3 linked regions of the Homo sapiens genome follow. The protein of the gene in region 1 interacts with the protein of each later gene in a pairwise test. Each region holds a gene or a part of one and is shown on either strand. Other genes may lie near its edges.

What was found.
Region 2: the proteins of RNF183 (region 1) and DBH interact in binary tests that used the Homo sapiens proteins (3 or more experiments, as listed by UniProt).
Region 3: the proteins of RNF183 (region 1) and HOXD10 interact in binary tests that used the Homo sapiens proteins (3 or more experiments, as listed by UniProt).

Annotation. Positions count from the first base shown.
Region 1 is NC_000009.12:113,296,678-113,300,421, reverse strand, and holds the end of RNF183 (E3 ubiquitin-protein ligase RNF183), read left to right. Parts: exon of another isoform or gene 1-566; intron 567-646; 5' UTR 647-850; exon of another isoform or gene 851-2,200; 5' UTR 2,201-2,237; coding exon 2,238-2,816; 3' UTR 2,817-3,329; downstream 3,330-3,744. UniProt on the Homo sapiens protein: Acts as an E3 ubiquitin ligase catalyzing the covalent attachment of ubiquitin moieties onto substrate proteins. Triggers apoptosis in response to prolonged ER stress by mediating the polyubiquitination and subsequent proteasomal degradation of BCL2L1.
Region 2 is NC_000009.12:133,634,181-133,637,924, forward strand, and holds the start of DBH (dopamine beta-hydroxylase precursor), read left to right. Parts: upstream 1-2,182; 5' UTR 2,183-2,191; coding exon 2,192-2,530; intron 2,531-3,744. UniProt on the Homo sapiens protein: Catalyzes the hydroxylation of dopamine to noradrenaline (also known as norepinephrine), and is thus vital for regulation of these neurotransmitters.
Region 3 is NC_000002.12:176,114,488-176,118,231, forward strand, and holds the start of HOXD10 (homeobox protein Hox-D10), read left to right. Parts: upstream 1-2,290; 5' UTR 2,291-2,346; coding exon 2,347-3,091; intron 3,092-3,744. UniProt on the Homo sapiens protein: Sequence-specific transcription factor which is part of a developmental regulatory system that provides cells with specific positional identities on the anterior-posterior axis.

The sequences.
Region 1 (3,744 bases):
TGTCTTTTTGCCTCACTACACTCTAAATGTCATGAGGTCAAAGACAATGTCTATTTTGTTCACCATAATACCTTGCACAGCACCTGGGCTAGAGTAAGCACTCAATAATGTCCGAGTGGATGAATGGACTGCAGAATAAAGCACTGGTGCAGAGCCCTGCTAAACTACCCTAGTTTCGCTTAGGGCTCCATCTCCCTCTGCATATCTTCATTTCCTCCTTCCCTGTTTGGAGCAGTGCCAGAGGTCTAGAAGAAAACCAGGAAGCCACAGGTCCGAGAGTATAAGCAGGTTTTGCTTCAGACATCGGCTCAGTCGGGGTAGATGATGTCATATCAGGGGCTCTAGGGAGACTCCCTTCCCCCAGATCCCCTCTTCCACAGTTCCTGGATTTCTACCATGAGTCTTCTGGCCGTGAAGGATTCCTGATCACATGCAAACACTTATTATCTAGCTAGTAACACGCACTGAGTAGGGGGACGGCATGGATGCAGCCTTCTGTCTTTACGAAAACCATGAGTCTGAAGACATGGGTCCCATGTCACCATTAACTAGCTGGGTGACTTTGGGTGAGTCACTTCTTGTCTCTCATCTGCAAAGTGAGTAGTTCAGATGGAGAATTGGTTTTTAAACTTTTTCTTTTCCCCAGCAGATCAACTCTTCAAATTATTCGAATGACCCATATGAGAAACAGAGAAAAGCCAAGTATTTCTGGTTGAAACGGAGAAGCTGGGCTGGAGTGCGCCTCCCTCCAACTCCCCGCTTTAACTCCCTAAGGTTGGTGGGATGGCCAGCTCTAAGATCTCAGAAGGCTGACCAGCTGTGTGCTAAGAACAAAGCAGAAGGCAGCGAGGTTTGTACACGCTGATTGCAGTTACTTAGGCACATTAAAAGATCAGCGGGTGACTGGACTGAATCTGATAGTCGGAGCTCTTAAGCTTCGAAGTAGGTGACTTTCACAGCAACCAAAGTGCTGAGCAGGCAGCCCCTTTGTGCAAGGAGGAGGTTCCAGCCACTTTCGAAGAGAAATGAGGGCCCCAGAGAGAGGAAGCCCAGAAGACTCAGTTACCCTCTTCACATCTACAAAGACGAAATTGCCACCCTACCTTTCCAGACCAGGGACTCCAGGTGTTGAAGGGACTGCCCACAATCTCACAGGTGCTTGGCTTCCAGGTTCAATTAGTTGCCATGCCCTGGGGGGAACTCAGGTCCCCCATCTTCCTCCCCACCCCACCCCCCAGGAAGCTCTCTGGCCTTGGCTCCAAGCAGGTGTGCTCAAGAGGCTGCCGACTGGGCCACCTGGCAGCCCCAGGTGCTGCGTGCATGCTGCCATGGAGACAGGCCCCTGGGTTGGTGGCAAGAAGGCAGTCTCCCAAAGCTTTGCCGATTCAGGGGAGGGAGCAACTGGAGCCTCAGGCCCTCCAGAGTAGTCTGCCTGACCACCCTGGAGCCCACAGAAGCCCAGGTGCGTGCCCTGAAGGTTTCCCAGGACAAAGGGAGGGAGGAGGAGCCAGGGTAGGCAGAGGATGGGGAAGAGGCTCTGGAAGGGGAAGAGGCTCTGGAAGGGGAAGAGGCTCTGGAAGGGCTGATCTGGGGACTGGGGCAGGGAAGCTTCTGCAAGGCTTCCAGGTAAGGAGAAAGGCCTTTCCAGGGGCTTCCTTGCCAGGCCAAGGACTGGGTGAGTAGGATGTGGAGGGTTGGCCCTCTAGCTCAAGGGGAGGAGGGAAAGAGGGCTGGCATTTGTCCCCATAGGAGGGACAGACCAGGGAATTCACAAAACCCATCTCTGCGCTAGTCAGGGATTTGAGGTAGCAGGGAAGGAAACATTTGTCCTGTAGCAAAACCCGCAGACTGCAGCTTACCCCCAGCTCCCTGGATTCAGGGCAGCCAAGGGCACAGACAATGACCATAAGGAGCATTTGCGTCCAGCTCCAAAGCCCAGGGCGACATCTGCTCCAATGCCGGCTCTCTTGGGGGCTCTTGGTAGGGGTGGCCCAGGCCTTCACCTTGACAGAGGGGAGGCTGTAGGAGCATTTGACTCAACTCGATGGGTTAGGAACTGGTGATCAAGAACAAAACGCTTTTGAACCTAAGTAAAACGTGGTGATTACACCTTTCAACACCCACAGAACACTTTGCCCCAGGCCAAGCACAAGGATGGGACTTCATGGCTGTTCCTTTGCTCCTTTCCCCCTTCTGCCAGGACGTCTCCCGCGAAGCCTCCCCGTGTGTGGCTGAGGATGGCTGAGCAGCAGGGCCGGGAGCTTGAGGCTGAGTGCCCCGTCTGCTGGAACCCCTTCAACAACACGTTCCATACCCCCAAAATGCTGGATTGCTGCCACTCCTTCTGCGTGGAATGTCTGGCCCACCTCAGCCTTGTGACTCCAGCCCGGCGCCGCCTGCTGTGCCCACTCTGTCGCCAGCCCACAGTGCTGGCCTCAGGGCAGCCTGTCACTGACTTGCCCACGGACACTGCCATGCTCGCCCTGCTCCGCCTGGAGCCCCACCATGTCATCCTGGAAGGCCATCAGCTGTGCCTCAAGGACCAGCCCAAGAGCCGCTACTTCCTGCGCCAGCCTCAAGTCTACACGCTGGACCTTGGCCCCCAGCCTGGGGGCCAGACTGGGCCGCCCCCAGACACGGCCTCTGCCACCGTGTCTACGCCCATCCTCATCCCCAGCCACCACTCTTTGAGGGAGTGTTTCCGCAACCCTCAGTTCCGCATCTTTGCCTACCTGATGGCCGTCATCCTCAGTGTCACTCTGTTGCTCATATTCTCCATCTTTTGGACCAAGCAGTTCCTTTGGGGTGTGGGGTGAGTGCTGTTCCCAGACAAGAAACCAAACCTTTTTCGGTTGCTGCTGGGTATGGTGACTACGGAGCCTCATTTGGTATTGTCTTCCTTTGTAGTGTTGTTTATTTTACAATCCAGGGATTGTTCAGGCCATGTGTTTGCTTCTGGGAACAATTTTAAAAAAAAACAAAAAAACGAAAAGCTTGAAGGACTGGGAGATGTGGAGCGACCTCCGGGTGTGAGTGTGGCGTCATGGAAGGGCAGAGAAGCGGTTCTGACCACAGAGCTCCACAGCAAGTTGTGCCAAAGGGCTGCACAGTGGTATCCAGGAACCTGACTAGCCCAAATAGCAAGTTGCATTTCTCACTGGAGCTGCTTCAAAATCAGTGCATATTTTTTTGAGTTGCTCTTTTACTATGGGTTGCTAAAAAAAAAAAAAAAATTGGGAAGTGAGCTTCAATTCTGTGGGTAAATGTGTGTTTGTTTCTCTTTGAATGTCTTGCCACTGGTTGCAGTAAAAGTGTTCTGTATTCATTAATTCATTCACTTATTCATTCCACGACCATTTACTGGGCTGGTGCTGAGTGCCAGAACTGAGGGAAGAGAAGAGTAGGATTATCCAGGGGTGGCAGATGGCCCTCACTAGCAGGAAGGGGTGTGCTCATTCAGCTGCTGCTTTTATGAGACCACCTCTTGCCAGCATGTAGTTCATGGAGTGTTAGGTGAAATCTAAAGGTGAACGATGTTAGATCAGTGGACTAGGGGAAGTCTGGGATTTGGAGGAATAGGTCTTTCTTCCTCCCGGCAGATACAGAGGCCCTGATTAGAATGGACATGGGGTAGAGTTCTGATTCCCTTCCCCCAAGCTCCATAATTCCAGCTTCAAGAAGATGGAAACGCTGGACACAGGCAAAAGTTTAACTCCCATCCCAGGCCATGGGAGGCAGCGGGGG
Region 2 (3,744 bases), about 20 Mb from region 1:
GCCTCTCGCTCCACAGAACCGCTGGGTTGAAGGAAGCTGGAGGGATCAATTGTCCTTGTCATCCAACTTCCTGTGTCTGTAGATGGGGAGGAGGCGCTGGGTTGGAAAGCGCTTCTCTGAGGACGCCAGCTGCGCATTCAGGAGGGCGGAGCAGGATATGACCCCAGAGCTCTGACCCCGGAGGAGCAGGAGGGGTGCCTGGGGCCTCAATACCCCAGAGGGGAGAGAGGTGCCCCCCTTCCCACAACGCGGGCCCCAGCTGGTGCTCGTTTAGCCTGTTGTCTAGCTGGAGCCACCTGGGTGGCCACCAGGCTGCTGGGAGGGCTCACCCCTGAGCTGGGTGTGCTGTGGAGCCCGTGACCCTCACCTCTGCCTCTGCTGGCTTTTGTTATCCCGTGCTGGGAACACCAGTGCCTGCCCACCCCGGAGGCTCTTCGTATCACCGGCTCGCTGTGGCCGCTCCCCAGTCCCGAGAGTGAATGTCCGGGATGCAGCAGACACCTGCTTACAAGGCACAGGTGAGGAGGTTTTGGAACTAATCTGAGGCATGAAGGTGAGGTGCTCTCAGGCGACGGAGGTGGCATGTCCTGATGGGAAAGCCAGGCCTTCGGAGGCTGAGACCCTTCCCAAGGCTCACCAGAGAACTCCCAAGAGTGTCTTTCCCCTGGCCTGGGAGACAATTTCACACCAATGCCACACTCTATTGCACAGGTGATTATGCACTTGGACCTCACCTGCCTGGGCTGTGGGTGGGGGCGAACGGTGCCCCTCTGGGTGCAATCAGTGGGGAGGGGCTCATGGCCTGAGCTTGGCTTTGCAGGATGGCCTGGCCACTGTGGGGCAGAGAGCACTGCCTGCGAGGGCCAGGGGAAGGCTGGCACTTTCTCCAAATTTCACGTTCGTGCAAAGACACAGTCATTCCTTTCTACAGCGTAGAGCTCAGAGCTGAAGCAGCCTCCAGACCTGCTGTCATGGGTATTTAAGGACCTAAATGTTGCTGTCAGCCTATGACATGAATGTGCCCCTAAGGCTAGATTCTGGGTTTCTCCAGAGAGACGAGAAACAGGAGGGAAAAGGAAGGAAGGGAGGGAGGAGGCTGGGGAGGAGGGACAGCTTCTAGTCCAGCTGGAGAGATCTGTCAACCCAGCCTGGGGGGTGGAGCTGGAGGGATCAAGCAGAATGTCCTGAAGGCAGCTGCCCTCAGTCTACTTGTGGGAGAGGACAGGAGGGAGAGGTGCCGTGGTGAGACTGACCCTCGGGCCCACGGGTGGATGATGGCAAAGGTCCTGTGGCAGGTGTGGGAGAAGCAGGGCTGCGGCCAGCTGCCCTGAGAGGCTTCAAATTCAGGCCAGATCTGCTCTGGGCAAGAGGAAGCTGTGGGTTTGGGAGCTTCAGAGACAGGGGAGCAGGCCTGTCACTCACCCTCTTTTCCTTAAAGGCTGTCACCCCCAGCAGTGCACCCTGCAGCCTGCCTATCCCCTGTGCAGCTCCAGCTCCGTCTGTCCCCAGCAATGCACCCCACGCCCATGTCCCCCACTCCCTATGATGCTCTCGCGCCTTCTGGAGCAGCAGTGGTACCAGCTGGAGGCTGTGGAAAAATTGAGAGGAGACAAAAGTGGGAAGAGCAGGCCGTGGAGAGAGTGTCTAAACACAGGGACTATTTGGAGATTGTCTTATTTTTGGTTTGAAATGGGCCCACCTGCTAGTATTGTACAAACGGCTCTGCTCGCTAGGCCAGGCCTGCAGTGGCTACGGGCCTATCCTTCACTGGTCAGCCTGGAGCAGCTCCTCGGACCTCAGTCTGCTCATCCGTGGGTAGAGGCGACGCAGACCCCATCCCACTGGGGACTGGGCCAGACAGCCTGTGAGGCAGTCAGCTGGTGCCTGGCCAGAGGGTGTCTGAAAGGCCTCTTGGCTGCAGGGTGCATCTGCTTTTGGGACAGCTCTTCAGAGCCATCTCAGAAGGGACAGCATCCGCCTGTCTACTTCAACTCCCACTGATGACGTCCATGTGTCATTAGTGCCAATTAGAGGAGGGCAGCAGGCTGAGTGCTTGGCCTGGGGCGCAAGCTTGTGGGAGGGAAAATTGGATTCCCCGCTAGACAAATGTGATTACCCGTGCTGCCTGGACCCACCCCATTCAGGACCAGGGCATAAATGGCCAGGTGGGACCAGAGAGCTCACCCCAGCCATGCCCGCCCTCAGTCGCTGGGCCAGCCTGCCCGGCCCCAGCATGCGGGAGGCAGCCTTCATGTACAGCACAGCAGTGGCCATCTTCCTGGTCATCCTGGTGGCCGCACTGCAGGGCTCGGCTCCCCGTGAGAGCCCCCTCCCCTATCACATCCCCCTGGACCCGGAGGGGTCCCTGGAGCTCTCATGGAATGTCAGCTACACCCAGGAGGCCATCCATTTCCAGCTCCTGGTGCGGAGGCTCAAGGCTGGCGTCCTGTTTGGGATGTCCGACCGTGGCGAGCTTGAGAACGCAGATCTCGTGGTGCTCTGGACCGATGGGGACACTGCCTATTTTGCGGTGAGTCTCTCCTCCCTGCCAGCTCTCCAAACCCTTCCTGACCCGGCACCCCATCTGGCCGTCTTTCTGCACTCACCCTCCTTAACCCAGAAAGTTCTTCTGTCACCTGTCAGTGTTTGAGTTGACTCTGCTCTGAGCCAAGTCTGCACCCCGAGCTTGGGCATCATGGGGATCTCAGTTTGAGGACAAAATAGGAAAGACATGCTTTCCATGGTCCTTGACTGCCCGCCCCAAATCATGGGACCCAGTAATCCCAAGGAATGGAACTATACACAGAGGACGCACACACCACACACACTCGTGCCGCTCCACACCCCACACGCGCATGAGCACAGACCCCACGACCCTCGGCCCTGTAAACAATGCCTAGTACCACGTCCCCAGAGCACACATGCCCACTGATGTGGGCCAGGTGGTGGCGCGTGGCTGGGCACAGCATGAGGCCTGCACACCCATGGGATCCAGCCTGACCTACTGTGCTTGTACCCGTGGACCAACTGAGCAGGTGCAGACACCCTGCCCCTACCCATAGGTGTTGAACAAGCCCCACAGGGCTCAGCCAAAACTGTTAGGATGGGCTCTTGACTCCTTTCCGTCCAAATTTACCTCCACTCTTGTTTCACAGGGTGGAGAAAGGGGAAAAGTTTCCCTTCAAACTGGAGGGGACTTTAGGCCCTTCCACAAGCTGCAGGGGGTCCCCGAAGTGGGCGAGCCCACCGCCTACAATGGGTCCTGCTCCAGCCTTCCTTTCCACATGGGACTGGCCACCAGGGCTTCTTTGTGGATGAAACCCAACTCTCTCCACAGAAACACACAAAGGAGTGACAAAAAAGTTTTATTTCTGAAGTCAGGAGGTGCCTGCTTTATCTGGGAGTGCCGAGCTGGAGCGGGGGAGCTGTGTCTGTGCGGAGCGGCCGGCTCCAGCTCTGCATCTTGGTCTCACCATGGGCTGGTGGGGCGGAGAGTCCCTCTCTGCCTTTTTGGGTGTTGTGAATTCATGAGGGCAGATGGTGGCTGCTGTTTCTGGAGCTGAGCTTGCCCCCTCCAATTCCCAAGACTCGGCCAGGAGGCACTTGCCTGTGTCGCTAGTGAGGCTTAGGGCCACCCAGGTAGGGTGAGTGGAGCTGCCTGGGAAGGGCCCTGCTCTGACCCATAGGGCTGCACAGATTCCTGTGCACAAAGACACTCTGTGGCTCAGGTTCCAGCCAAGAAAG
Region 3 (3,744 bases), on another chromosome or scaffold:
ACAGCTGCGTAAAGGTTTAAAAGGTCTGTCTCATTGCCACCGCGGAGTTTTTTAAAAGAGGTTATTGTTTGGGCGAGAGCACCGAGAGGGAACAGGCGAAAGGGTCCCAAGGCCGAAAATAATGTTCAACGCTTGTTTCAACCAGGCCAGGGGAGATTCCTTTTTGGGAAGAGGGACAAAGGGTTTTTTGGGAAAGGTTTTTGTAAAGGAGCGGGCGGGCTACTAGGTCCCCCAGAATGCTGAGGCGCTTTAATGAACCTCAGGCCCCAAAGAAATGTTCTATTGAGGTGGAAACCCAATTTACCCACAAGTTCAGTCTCTGGGCCTGAAATCCAAGGCCAGCCCATGCCCCAGCGAGTACGGGGAAAAGAGAACACAGATGCCCTCCCGGACTGAGAACTGGTTCATGGTCAGAGTTTCTGGGACCGCTTTAGTTTCTTGGCTGGCAGGAAGGGAACCTGGCAGGCCGAAGGACGGCTCCAAGCCCTGGCCGGCCCCTCACTCAGGGCAAGTCTTTGGAAATCAAGGTTAAAGCTCCCCGCTGCTGCCCCGAGGCCCGGGCTTCCGCAGGGCGGCTCACCCGCCTGCAGCAAGAGAGGGAGGGAGGAAGTTGTTGAAGTTTCTCATAAAACTCTGAGTTTCCATGGTGGTAGTGGTGGTAGTGGTGGTAGTGGTGGTAGTGGTGGTTCTTTAATGAGCCGGACCACAACCCCAGACCATATCCTCTTCATAGAAGTTTCCCTCACCAAAGGAAACAGAGAACTAAGATTCCCACCTCCTTCCCCTCCCTTACCCAAGCAAAGCCTTGTCAAATAATTTCAGAAATTGTCCAAAACTGTAAAACTCAACTTCTGACAAAAGTATAGCTTTTAATATTTGACAATTTGTATTAAAACAAAAATGACCTTCTTGGTTAGCAGCGAAGGGAAAAAAATCAATAGTATAATTTTCAATAATTCATAAAGCGAACGCCATTATGGTAAATTTAACTATTAATCTTATCCTTTACAAAGTCTCGATTGATTTGTTAATAAAGTATCTTCCCGTGTGTGGCAACAGCGGGCATAACTCTTTAAAAACCTTCAGAAGCAAGAAAATTACCAAGTAGCCCAAGAATGTAGATGAGAATTTTATTGATCGCCCTGATTCTTCTTAATATGTATTAATAAATTCCACAACCTTTTGTACCTTGCACTTGTCAGAAACCAGTGCTTTTACAAAATCCATAAAAGGAAAACATTTTTCTTTGCAGAAGAACCAAAATGACACCTTTGCATTTCTCTCTGTCCTTCTTGGCCCAGTCAGTTTTCTAAAACTTCTGGATTCTGAGGGTCAGAGTTTCCCCTTTTCTTAAATTATTTTTTCCTTTCTTCCTTCCTGTTTGCCCTCCATTATCAGGGTGTGGGGAGAGAAACCTCTGTTTAGTTCTCCTACAGGGAGCCCGAGGGACGCTTTCGCGGATAGTGAACTGCTGGCAAAGAATTGTCTCTGGGCTGAAAGCTCCCAGAGGTCCGGCCCCGCAGAGGTCAGGGTGTGGTTCCTCTGAGAGCCGAAGCCTCGTGTAGCCCTCCGGGGCGCATAGGAACCCGGAGCCAGGCAGGAGGACCGAGCGGGAGGACAACGCAGGGACCAACCCATCCATGGGGATCCGGGCCCGGCCAGCTGCTTGGCCTCCCGGCCCTCGCGGCCCTTTTTGCCTCCGCCCTCCTAGAGACACCTTGGCCGCTTCTTAGCCCCAAGGGATCTTTCCTTTGGACCCCTGGGGTGGGATGTCTCAGGGCCCGCGGAATCCGACTCACCTTCCCGCTGGGCTGCCCGGGACTAAATTAACCAGCCTGCGCCCCCACCCGCTTGTCCTGGACCCGGCCCTCTTAAGCGCGTTCTGCCTGGTTGTGTGTGGGGGGAATGCTTCTGTGCGCTGGCGCCAGGGCACTCTGGCTTCCCTCCCCGTCCGTGCGTGTCCACTTGGAGGCCCCTAGAGCTGAGACTTTCCTTCCGCCGGTTGGGCCCAGGGGCCGAAGCGGGGGACGCGAGTGGGGCGGGCTGGCCGAGCGAGCCCTGGAGAGGCGGACAGGAGGGCGGCGGAGAGCGCTGGGCCGGTTGTCTCCAGCGCGCACTATCGCGGGCGCGTAGTAGATGTCGCTGTTGTCCGTGCTTACCCGGCCGGCCGGCCAGGCTCTGGAGCACGTGACCCGAGAGGAGGCTGCGGCTCAAGGCCATTTTCAAATCTCATTGGCTTGGTTGTCATGTGGTCGGCAGAGGCATCCACAATTACACGGGGAATGTTTTCCTAGAGATGTCAGCCTACAAAGGACACAATCTCTCTTCTTCAAATTCTTCCCCAAAATGTCCTTTCCCAACAGCTCTCCTGCTGCTAATACTTTTTTAGTAGATTCCTTGATCAGTGCCTGCAGGAGTGACAGTTTTTATTCCAGCAGCGCCAGCATGTACATGCCACCACCTAGCGCAGACATGGGGACCTATGGAATGCAAACCTGTGGACTGCTCCCGTCTCTGGCCAAAAGAGAAGTGAACCACCAAAATATGGGTATGAATGTGCATCCTTATATACCTCAAGTAGACAGTTGGACAGATCCGAACAGATCTTGTCGAATAGAGCAACCTGTTACACAGCAAGTCCCCACTTGCTCCTTCACCACCAACATTAAGGAAGAATCCAATTGCTGCATGTATTCTGATAAGCGCAACAAACTCATTTCGGCCGAGGTCCCTTCGTACCAGAGGCTGGTCCCTGAGTCTTGTCCCGTTGAGAACCCTGAGGTTCCCGTCCCTGGATATTTTAGACTGAGTCAGACCTACGCCACCGGGAAAACCCAAGAGTACAATAATAGCCCCGAAGGCAGCTCCACTGTCATGCTCCAGCTCAACCCTCGTGGCGCGGCCAAGCCGCAGCTCTCCGCTGCCCAGCTGCAGATGGAAAAGAAGATGAACGAGCCCGTGAGCGGCCAGGAGCCCACCAAAGTCTCCCAGGTGGAGAGCCCCGAGGCCAAAGGCGGCCTTCCCGAAGAGAGGAGCTGCCTGGCTGAGGTCTCCGTGTCCAGTCCCGAAGTGCAGGAGAAGGAAAGCAAAGGTCGGTATGAGCAGAGTTGCCACCCCAGCGGGGCGCGCAGCCCGGGAACCCGGCAGAGAGGGAGTGCCGGGGTGCCCAGCGCCGAGCCGGAGCCCGACTTGGCAGGTGCTGCTCCGCCTGGTTTTAGAGGGGTGATCTCAGCCCTGAGATAGTCCCCGCTTCTCCCCTGCTGCCCTGGCCCTCTCCGCCAGTCCTGGCCCCACGCTGATGGCGCCCGGGCAGAGGAAAAGCTTGCCGGTTTTATTTTTCCTGAGCTAGACCTGAACACAACAAAAGAGCGCAAAGGAGACCTGCGGCTCATAAACACGACCACAGAGCCTCTTTTCTCCTGCTCAGATTTGCAGTTCCAGTTTTGCCTTGAGCCCAATGATCATGTTAAGGTGATCCAGGGCACCGTGTTCGTGTTCAAGTGTATGCACCCCGCATCCTGCGAGCTTGGGGGTGGTGAGGGGAAAGAGATGGCTGGGCTGGTTGGTGCTTGAGTTGGGAAACAGGGCTTACTGCCTTTGCTGGGCTAGGTAACCTTGGCTTTGTTTAGGAAAAGTGCTGCAGTCTTTGCAATCCGTCGGCAAAGAGGGCAAAGGCGGAGGGGGAGAGTGGAACCCGCATTGCCCTCCCTGCAAGGCCAGCCTTAGGGCTGGGCTAAGGCAAAG